2 separate regions of the Homo sapiens genome follow, and region 2 is linked to region 1. Evidence: fine-mapped expression QTL. A gene starts in region 1. The other region holds a variant in brackets. All regions are shown on one strand. Distances are from middle to middle. Region 1 holds the start of ZNF565 (zinc finger protein 565). Region 2 overlaps KMT2B (lysine methyltransferase 2B).

What was found. PIP is the estimated chance that this variant, and not a neighbour inherited with it, causes the effect.
Region 2: its variant is the best candidate, but not a certain one, in a credible set for the expression of ZNF565 in prostate (GTEx, PIP 0.57).

The regions. Positions count from the first base shown.
Region 1 is chr19:36,212,183-36,217,698 of GRCh38, reverse strand. It overlaps ZNF565 (zinc finger protein 565), which reads left to right and starts at 3,034. Exons shown (of 5, transcript NM_152477.5): 1 at 3,034-3,077. ZNF146 (zinc finger protein 146) reads right to left here and starts at 2,593. Exons shown (of 4, transcript NM_007145.3): 1 at 2,503-2,593. RefSeq lists enhancers at 2,350-2,539, 2,650-3,079.
Region 2 is chr19:35,728,420-35,733,419 of GRCh38, reverse strand. KMT2B (lysine methyltransferase 2B) reads right to left here. Exons shown (of 37, transcript NM_014727.3): 20 at 4,531-4,646; 21 at 4,344-4,435; 22 at 4,124-4,261; 23 at 3,295-3,453; 24 at 2,958-3,078; 25 at 2,804-2,882; 26 at 2,553-2,713; 27 at 1,285-1,512; 28 at 1-1,205. Among named protein-coding and RNA genes, the nearest start is that of IGFLR1, 12 kb to the left of the region's middle. The variant C/T (reference allele first, on the strand shown) is at 2,796.

The DNA of each region.
Region 1 (5,516 bases):
TGGTCACGCTGGTCTCAAACTCCTGACCTCAGGTGATCCGCCTGCGTTGGCCTCCCAAAGTGCTGGGATTATAAATACATATTCTTATTACCCCTTTTCTTATTCCAAATGCATCGTGTATCATACTCTACATTCTGCACCTTGCTTTCTCTCAGTTAACAATACATTTTGAAGTTATTTCTGTCTCAGTATATAAAGAGCTTCCTCCTCATTCTTTTGTACAGCTATGTATTATTTTGTTGTATCGATGTACACCAATCTCCCACTGATGGGCATGAACTGTTTTTCTTTTCTTTCTTCTCTCTCTCTCCTTTCTTTCTTTCTTAAGACAGGGTCGGCCAGGCACCGTGGTTCATGCCTGTAATCCTAGCACTTTGGGAAGCCGAGGCGGGCCGATCACTTGAGGTCAAGAGTTCAAGACCAGCCTGGCCAACATGGTAAAACCCTGTCTCTACTAAAAATACAAAAAAAGTAGCCGGGTGTGGTGGCAGGCAACTAATCCCAGCTACTCGGGAGGCTGAGCCAAGAGAATCGCTTGAACCTGGGGGGCAGAGGTTGCAGGGAGCAGAGATTGGGCCACTGCACTCTAGACTGGGCAAGAGAGAGAGACTCCATCTCAAAAAAAAAAAAAAAAAAAAAAAAAGACAGGGACTGGCTGTCCACCAAGCTGGAATGCTGTCGCCAGGATCTCTGCTCACTGCAGCCTTGACCTCCTAGGCTCAAGTGATCCTCCCACCTCAGCCTCCCAAGCAGCTAGGACTACGGGAGATCTCACTATGTCGCCCAAGCTGGTCTCTAACTCCTGGACTCTAGCCATCCTCCTGCCTTGGCTCACAGGTGTGAGCCACCAAGCCCGGCCTGAGGCTTTATATTTAAAATGTGTTGGGTCCCCATCTCCCCACACCTCAACGCCTTTTCTTTCTCAGTCTGTACTGGCTCTTGCAGCTTGTCTCTTTCCATAGTAAGTCTAGGATCAGTTCCCCTAGTTCCAAAAGAGAAAAGCCTGTCCATACTTTTATTAGGATCACATTATTACTATTATTGAGACGGAATCTCGCTCTTGTCCAGGCTGGAGTGCAGTGGCGAGATCTGGGCTCACTGCAACCTCCGCCTCCCAGGTTCAAGCGATTTTCCTGCCTCAGCCTCCGCGGTAGCTCAGATTACAGGCGCCCGCCACCACGCCCGGCTAATTTTTGTATTTTTTTATTTTATTTTTTTTTAGTAGAGACAGGGTTTCACCATGTTGGCCAGGCTCCTCTCGAACTCCTGATCTCAGGTAATCCACCCATCTCGGCCTCCCAAAGTGCTAGGATTACAGGCATGAGCCACCGCACCCGACCAAGATCACAGTAAATTAATACATTCACTTAAGTTTGCGCACACTTCTTAATGTCACATGGTATATTTATTTGTTCACATTTGTTATGCCCCTTAGTAGTATTTTAAAGTTCTTTCCTAATAGTTCTGAACCTTTAAGTTTCTTCCACAATACTTTATCTTTTTACTGCTATTGTAAATATTAGTTTTCTTCAACTATGTATTCTAACTGATATTTGTAAATTAGAAGGCTATTTATTTATAGATATTAACTTGGTACCCAATTACTTTATTTAACTTTTTGTAATTTAAAACTATGTCAATGACGACAGCGGGGGCGGGGTGATTTCCTTAGAAAACGCATCTTTGGAGACGTCAGTAGCATTCTCCATTACTTCACAAAATCCATACAACCTGAGAACGCCTCGACTCATTAAGGAATTAAGACACCTAGGATTTAGTCCAGACTCATAGATAAACACTGCAACAATTAAGCTTTCTTCAAAAAATGAGGATAACTGTGCCTAACCTAAAACCGTTGACTCCCTCATCCTGGGCGCCGTTATATGGGATTGCTTCTCAAAGCGTACAATGCTGTTTAGTCTAGGGCTTTGCTTAACAGCCCTATTTAAGTACCCCAAAGATGGGGATTTGAATAGTCTGAAGTAGGCACCCCGAAACTAAAGTTCCTTCGAAACACTCTCGTTTAATTAAAAAAAAAAGTCACGGTGATTTGCATGCCACTCCAATTAAAAAGAAATGCTTTTATATAAAAACTCGTTTTAAAATTATTCACCACTTAGCTTTTCCACCCCTTCAATTTTCAAGTAAAAAAGACGCTCCAGGAAGATGGCACCGTTATAATTATCAGCACTTTCGACAAGGGAAGTGCAGCTCAAACGTTATACCTCAATGCTGGTCTCCTACATCTCCCTCTTAGGCACAATCACACACAATCCCGCACCCAGTTTCACATTCACTCAACAATCCCAAACATCAGGTCAAACTTTGAGGACAAACTCGGTCACACTCGCTCAAACCCGCCTCAGAGGCCCCCATCTCCGCCCCGCACGTAGGCCAGAAGCTCTTACACCCACTCCCTGCCCTCGCGCCGCGCCCCTAAAGATCAGGAATCCTCCCCTTTAACCTCCCCGGTCCGACCGACCCGAGACGCCCAGATCCCACCTCCTACTTTCGCGCCACGTGGACCCAGGGGCCGTACTGACCCGCGGACAAAGACCAAAATGTCCACTCGGTGCGCTGCGCTTGCGCACTCGGAGAGCGAGGAAGCACTCCCAGAAGTCTCCGCGACGCGGCCCGCCTCGGTCACCGCGGCCAGGCCCAGGCTGGTACTGAATTACCTTCTATTACCAGCAACGTCGCTTCTCAGGCCTTGGACTACATTTCCCTTGAGGCTTTACTGGTCGACTCTCTGTCTCCTCCCCTCCCCCCGCGAACTTGGCCGCCTCCTTCTGTGACGATGGAGCTCTTGAGGTAAGTAGTCCTTTAGCGTCAGATGACTTCAAGCTTGCTGGAAGGTCTGGAGTGGCGACGCCCTCTCCGAAGACTCGTGGGCGCAAAAATGTCAAAACGAGCCAGGCCCCGACTCAGAGATAAGAGAACGCCATTCTGTCCGTGGCCGATCTAGCTCTGGACTACAATTCCCAGAGCCCACAGCGGCCTGACGTTACGTCGTTCTTGACGTCGTGGCGAGCTAGTTAGCTCCGCAAGGACCCGGACGCGACCAGGGGAGGCAGAAGGTGAGGGGTCTGGGAGTCCTGGGCGGGGCCGGGGCGTGTCCGGAGCCTCGAATCTGTGCGCGCAGGCGGGAGCTGGCTGCGGATGCGCCGTTCTGAATGTGTCTTTGTGGCTGTGTGGCTGGGTGTGGGTGTCTGCAACTGTGCACGTGTAACCGCCTGTCTCCAGGGTGTCTGGTGGTTTTTGTGTAACCATGTGTGATAGAGAGTATCGGGGTGCAGGGTCCTTGTGACCGGGGGTGATACTGCGTGTGTCCCCGTTGTATATGTGGCCTGTTCGCCCTGTTCCTGGGGTGTGAGTACAGTTGTGACTGTGTGACCACTGCGGGTGTGCGGTTGTGATTCATGTCTCCAAGGTGTGTGCGTGGTTTTGGTTGTGTGACACTGTGGCCGTGTGCAATTGCCTGTGCCTGTGACTGTGTGGTGACGCCGCTTGTGTATTCCTGTATCCCTTGGTGTGTGTGTTTGTGTGTATGTGTGTGGTGCTGTGTATGCGGGAGTGGGGTGCCACTGCTTGTGTGGGTTGCTTGTGTGAGTGTGACTGTGTGTATGTCCACAGTGAAAGTTCAGTTGTGACTGGGTGCCGTAAAGTACCAGTGATGGCGTGTGTCCCCTGAGTGGGTGTGTGACTGTGACTATATGAGGCATTTGTGGGTGTTGGTGTGTGGGGCTTGTGACTATACGGGAGTAACTGTATCACAGTGGAGAGTAGATTGTGTGACTGGGTGTGTCTTAGCGGGTGTGTGATTGTGACTGGAAAGATATTGTGACTGGAAAGGTATAGAGGTGTCTGTGATTGTGTCCTGTGTCTCAGGAGTGGATGTAGGGCCGGGTGTGGTGGCTCACATCAGCCCTTTGGGAGGCCGAGGTGGGAGGATCACTTGAGCCCAGGAGTTCGAGACCAGCCTGGCCTGTACAAAAAAAAAAAAAAAAAATTAATGGCTGGCACGGTGGCTCACACCTGTAATCCCAGCACTTTGGGAGGCCGAGGCGGGTGGATCACCTGAGGTCAGGAGTTCTAGACCAGCCTGGCCAACACGATAAAACCCTGTCTCTACTAAAAATACAAAAATTAGCTGGGCGTGGTGGCAGGTGCCTGTAATCCCAGCTGCTCAGGGGGCTGAGGCAGGAGAATCGCTTGAACCCAGGAGGCAGAGGTTGCAGTGAGCCGAGATCGCGCCATCGCACTCCAGCCTGGGGGACAAGAGCGAGACTTCGTCTCAAAAACAAACAAACAAAAAATTAAAAATTATCTGAGTGTGGTGGCCCACACCTGTGGTCCCAGCTACCCGGGAAGCTGAGGTGGGAGGATCTCGAGCTTGAGAGGTCAAGGCTGCAGTGAGCCGTGTTTGAACCACTGCATTCCAGTCTAGGTGACAGAGCGAGACCCTGTCTCAAAAAAATAAAAGAGTGGATGTGTGGTTATGTTTGTGTGACACTGACTGTATGTGCAGCACCAAGTGTGCCAGTGACTCTAGTGCTTGACCCATGCAGAACCTTTGAAGTTAGGACAGATTCTGGCCCTGGACAGGAGTGACCTCAGCCTTCTGAGTGACACTGGATTTAGGCAGATGCCTGGTGTTCTGTGACCACACTTCCCTATATGGTAGGTAAGGAGGATGGTGGTTCAAAAATGACCTGGTTGTTCATGATTCCTTGCTCTTAACCCTTCTCCAAGAAAGGTGCCAAGTTCAAGTACATCAGGTTTTATTCTTATTTCTCTGAAATCCTTCTTGTTTTTCAGGACATGCTTTTCTTTCCTTCTTCTGAAACTTCAGAACCACCCCACCACCACCCTCACCCCTACCAAAGTAACCTGGTCTCCAGTATTTGCCATAGGAGTAATTTACTGCGTGCCTTGGAGATGGACTGAAAGGCCTATATCCTCCCTGCTCCCTGCATACCTAATGTTCTTTTAAATTTTTTTCTTTACTTTTCATTTTGAATTTAAGACTTTAAAATGTAGCAACAATAGAATTCCCATTTGCTCTTTTTTTTTTTTTGAGACGGAGTCCTGCTCTGTCACCCATGCTGGAGTGCAGTGCTGTGATCTCAGCTCACTGCAACCTCCACCTCGCAGGCTCAAGCGATTCTCCTGCGTCAGCCTCCTGAGAAGCTGAGATTACAGACAAATGCCATCGTGCCCAGCTGATTTTTTGTAATTTTAGTAGAGACGGGGGGAGGGGGGTTTCACCATGTTGGCCAGACTGGTCTCGAACTCCTGGCCTCAAGTGATCCTCCTCCCTCAGCATCCCAAAGTGCTGGGTTAGAGATGTGAACCACCATGTCTGGTCTCCATTTTCCTTTTTGTAACTCCTTTGACACGCCTAGCCAATTTTTTGTATTTTTAGTAGAGACAGGGTTTCACCATGTTGGCCATTTGTTTTGTAGAGTCTGCAGTGTAGAATGTTCCTCTCTTTGGAATTGTCTGATATTTCCTGT
Region 2 (5,000 bases), 480 kb after region 1:
TGGCGGGGACCGGCCGGAGAAAGTGGACACCCTCTTGACGCGGATGGCCTGGCGGGGCGGGCTGGCTGGCCCACTGCTCAGCACCAGCGTCAGGGGAGGGGGTGGCGGGGGCGGGGCAGGGCGGACCACTCCGACCACGGGCAGCACGCCGAGGAGGGGGCCTGGGGGCAGAGTCCAGGAGGTGGGAGCCGTGGGGGAAATGGTGGGGGGCAAAGGTGGCTGCTTCACTGGGGGTGGGACAGGTTCACCCTCCCCAGCCATCTTCACAAATACTTGCCCCAGCTTGTTGACAAGTATGATTTTGGATGTGGCGGGTTTGGGGGGCTCAGGGGCAGGGCCAAGGCTTAACACCCGGACCCCTGGGGCCCCTGGGAGCCAGGCAAATGTGCGGGTGGGGTCAGCTGGGCTGGCGGTCAGGCCTTGGGAGGGCTGGCTGCCATTAGCCAGGGGAGGCGCCGGGGGGAGTGACTCCTCTCTAGGGCCAGCACCTCCATCCCCAGGACCCCCTAGGTTCTTCAACACAAAATCCACAATTTCCGATGGCAGGTCCTCAGGAGGCCGGGCCCTGTCCCCTGCAGCCCCAAGGACCCCTGCCCGGACTACTCCTGGCCCCGAAGGAGGCGTGCCCTGGCCCCGAGGCTGCTGCACCGCCTCAGCCTCACTGTCAGTGCCGTCGTCCACGCCGTCCAGCTGTTCAATGCGGGGGGCTCCAGGGGTAGCGCTGGGGGCCAGACCAGGGGCGGACACCACAGTCACAGGGAAGTGGATGTAGCGGGAGGTGGGGCTGGACTCCTCCTCGGAGCTGTCCCCCGGGCCCCCGTGGCTGCTCCCCATGGCCCCAGCGGCTACAATCTCTTCCTGGAAGGGCTCAGTCCCCAGCAGGCTGGCCGCGAAGTCCAGGTCAGCAGCACTCAGTCCTGACACCACCTCCATGTCCTCGAAGTCTGGGCCCAGGTCTTCAGGGGGTGGTGGAGATGGGGCCGGGCCAGGGGGAGCCAGCTCCCCTGAGGTAGGTGTGAGGGCTGTGACGACTGAGGTAGGAGGGGGCACCCTGAGCTGAGGGGAGGTTTTTAGAGGAGGGGAGGCCCACCGTGATGGAGGCGGCCTGGGAGCCAAAGGGCTGGGACGACGGGAACGTCTGGGGGGAGCTGGGAAGTCCGGGTCTCCCACTGTGGGGATGTGGTGGGTCAGTGAAGATGGACTTCCTGTGGGGGGAGGGTTGGTGTTACCAGCAGCTCCCACCTCCGCGGCTCCACCCCCAACCCCCACATGCCCGGTGCTCACCAGGGGAGGGCAGGGGGCCAAAGGAGACACCCCCCAAGGGCCTCCGGGATGGCGAGTAGTTGGGCACTTTGATTCGAGCCCCCGAAAAAGAACGGGGGGCTGGAGGAGGGGCGCTGCCTGAATCTGGCCGCAGTGGAGGGTCCAGGTTCTGAATGGGCGAGTGGCGCTCAGGAGCTCCAGGGACAAGAACATCTGTGTCCAGTGGGGGGTCCTCACCACCTGGGGGCTCTGAAGAGGCGAGAAATGGCATTGGGGTGGTAGGGGCTCTGTGTCAAAGCCTGCCCACATGCTCTCATCCTGAGCCACTATGCCTCCCAGGTCCCCGACCCTGACCCAGTCACAACAGGCCCCAGTTTCCAGTGACCACCCAGGCTAAACCCACCGTGGAGTTGGCAAAACCTGCACACACCTGGGCCAGGGGGCCTTCAGGGCCTCTCCCCACTCGCTCCTTGCCATCTCCTCTCTGCCTCTGCTGCAGGCTTTGCACGCCATGGGGAACTGCCCTCCCTCCAGCACGGCCAGTCCTACCACTTTCTTACTTGCCTGGTGCATCCAAGCCACATCAGACGCTCCCGCCCGCCCCGGCCCGGAGGCTCTCCATTACCTGGCTCCACCCAACCTCTGCAAACTGATCTCCCTCCTCCACCCAAAACTCCCTGGTTTCCAGACGGGATGGGTGTACCCTCCTCCTCTGTCCACTTCTTGTCATGCTCCAACCTGGAATAAAGCCCTTCCTACCATCCAAATCTCTTCTGCCTCCTGCTCTGCCCACAATAACCTCTCCCCCATCTCCAAGCCCATTCTTTGCCCTGTGCCATCCAGCTCTCAGCCACATCCCACAGCCAGTGTGGCTGTAAGGGGGCCGGTTTGGGAGCTGAGCAGATGCAGTTCCAATTCCAGCTTCCCTAGCATGTTACTGTGTTCAGCCACTGTCCCCTTCAAGGTGTAGTATGGCGACACTGGAGAGCGCTCCATGAGCACAGTGCCCCAAGTTAGGGAGCTGTAAGCACTCTACTCCCTGCAGTCGTCCAAAAGCCAGTACCCCACCTCAAGTAGGCAGCGTGCCGCTCTCCCCACCTCACTTCCCATGAAAAGCCGGGCACAGCCCCTGGCACACAAGGCATGGCAGTAAGCGAGCTGCCGTTACATTACAGCAACTGAAGCAAAAGCAAGCCTCCTGGACTTTCCAAAAGGGAGCGGGGAACAGAGATCTGTAGGTTTGTTTAGGGAGAGCGGTATTCAGGAAGAAGACAGAGCCAAAGCCACACCTGAGGAAGGGGCGGGGCTGTGCACAATGGTCTGGTTCTCCTCTGCAGCCTCCAGGTGAGCTGGCTCTTCCCTCGGCCCCCATGGCCGATACTCCAGAATTCGGCACCGATACCAGCAGCGCCTCCGAGCATCCACTGTGCTCCAGTACAGACGGGAGCACCTGGCATGTGGGATAAGACGGTTAGGATGCTTGGGAAATGGGATCCAGCTATGGAGTCCCCTGGCCCCATGGATCACCCCGA[C/T]CGCTCACTGGTAGCCAATGGGGAAGAGCCGTCCCTCGCAGTCCGAGAGATCAGACAGAGTACCCAGGGAGTCAATGCGGATGGAACCTGTGGTGCAAAGCGGAGGTCAGGAGAGGCAGGCAGGACAGGGTAGGAGGACAGGGCGGAGAGCAGGCAGCTTACCAATGAGCACGTTGATGGCATCGGGTTCAAGCCCCGTCAAGAACTTCCGCTTGAAGTTGATGCCCTCGAAGTCCACATAGACTCGGCGGAGAACATCAAAACCATCGGGGTTCACAATTTCCTGGAAGAGGGGGTGGCAAAGTGAGGTGGCTGCATTGGTGGGGGAGGTGGATGCCAGGGAAGTCTGAACAGTCAGGGGCTTGGCCTAAAGGCCTCTGGGAAAACAGATGAGGAGACACTGAGAGGCAGTAGGGCCAGGCCTGGGGGCCACGGGGGTCCCTAAGTGAACAGGAAGAGAGGTGGGGAAGGAACCGTGTACCCCACAGTTCTGGCCCACCTTGCCATCCAGGAGATCAGTGTGTTTCTGGCAGAAGACTTTCTTGTCATCCTGGAAGATGCAGTAGCTGGCCCGGGCACACATGAAGTGGAAGTTGCTGAGGCAGGAGGACAGGCAGCAGCCCACCGTGGCGCCAGGCTTCAGGCAGAGCTCGCAGCGCTGCGTAGGGGAGGGCAGCTCAGGGGAGAAGCCAGGGCTGGGGCTGGGCGCCAGGCACCACTGTCACTGAGTCTGCATGGGTCCCTGTCTAGCCTGGCACGGCAAAGGCTCTCCCTAGGCGCAGCCTCTCCCCAGCCGCATCCAGGCCCAGGTGCACACCAAACTCTCTCTGGTTCTTTGAAGCAAGAATGACAATACTTGCTGATAGCATTAGTGTGATTATCTTTGTCACAGTTTTCAGGCGGAGGTTGTGTTATTTTCATCCTCACAGATACCCCCGCAGTGGGAATCTCTACCACCCCAATGCCCGAGAGTGCCTGAGGTCTCTCTGTACCTGGCCCAGGCACCACTGTGAGGAGTGGGGGAATTCTAACCTCACGGGGATGTAGTGAGAGCTCAACGCCACCCAGCATGGAAAGCGTGCAGCCCAGGTTCAATCAATGGGCACTCTTCTCACTTTTAGACTCCCACACTTCAGGCCCAGATTACAGCCAGAGGGCCCACATAGGAAAAAGCTGCCATCAGCACCAACGTCCCAGGGCAACCAAGAGACCTCAGCCTGGCAGTGAAAGGATGCCAGGTAGGGAATGTGAAGTAAGAGCTGTTTGCACCGGAGGAGGCCTCCCCAAGAGCCAGAGAGCTGTCCACCTCTCTGCGCCCGCGCCCTCACCATCTGCCTCCCTCGGGCCACAGCAGCATGCACATTCTTGAGGGAGCCGTCGTTCTCCTCGAAGACTTCCGCCGACCAGATGGCACAGTTGACGTGTGTCCACTCGTTCTGCCCGATGTACAAGAGCCGCCCCGCCTCCTGGGGCAGAAGAGGAGTGGCATGATGTGGGGAGGCCAGGGAACAGGCCCCACAACCTGGTGCGTCACAGAGCAGCCCTCACCTTGGAGTCTGCATCCCCGTATTTGAGGCAGAGTGCACACTGACGGGGGTCCTCCAGGTGTGAGAAGGCAGCCGGATCCTTGCCCTGGAATGCTGAAGAGGAAATGTGAAGGGAGGTCTAAGAATCAGGACCCGGAGCCAGGCCACCAACACAGGGCCCTGGCTTCTGGACCCCCACTTCCCAGTACCTGCTGAGGGATCCCCTGGAGGCTGCCCTGATTCTGGGGTCTCTGGTTCCTGCTGTCTCCACTGCGCATAGACATGATCCAGGGATGGGGGCAACACCGCATTGGGAAGGACTCCGCTGTGGACAGGCAGGGTTAGCAGCTGATGTGCCCAACAAGGGCAGCTGAACGGGGGCCCATCCACAAACCAGCCTGAACTCGCCATGACACCCGCTACTCCCTCTCTATGTGGAATTTCTCTCAGTCCACCAAATAAGCCAGGCCCTCTTGTGCCAGCTTGGACATACGAAATGCTGCTCCTCATGCCTGCAATACTCTTCCTCCCCAGCTCTGCTCCAATGCCATCTCTTTCAGGAAGCCTTCCCTGACACCTCGGCTCCAGCAGGTACCCCTCCGGGCCCCCACCGCCCCCTGGTATTCTCCATCACTGCCCTGACCATCTGGGTCTTCAGTGCCTGCCCGGCTCCACAATG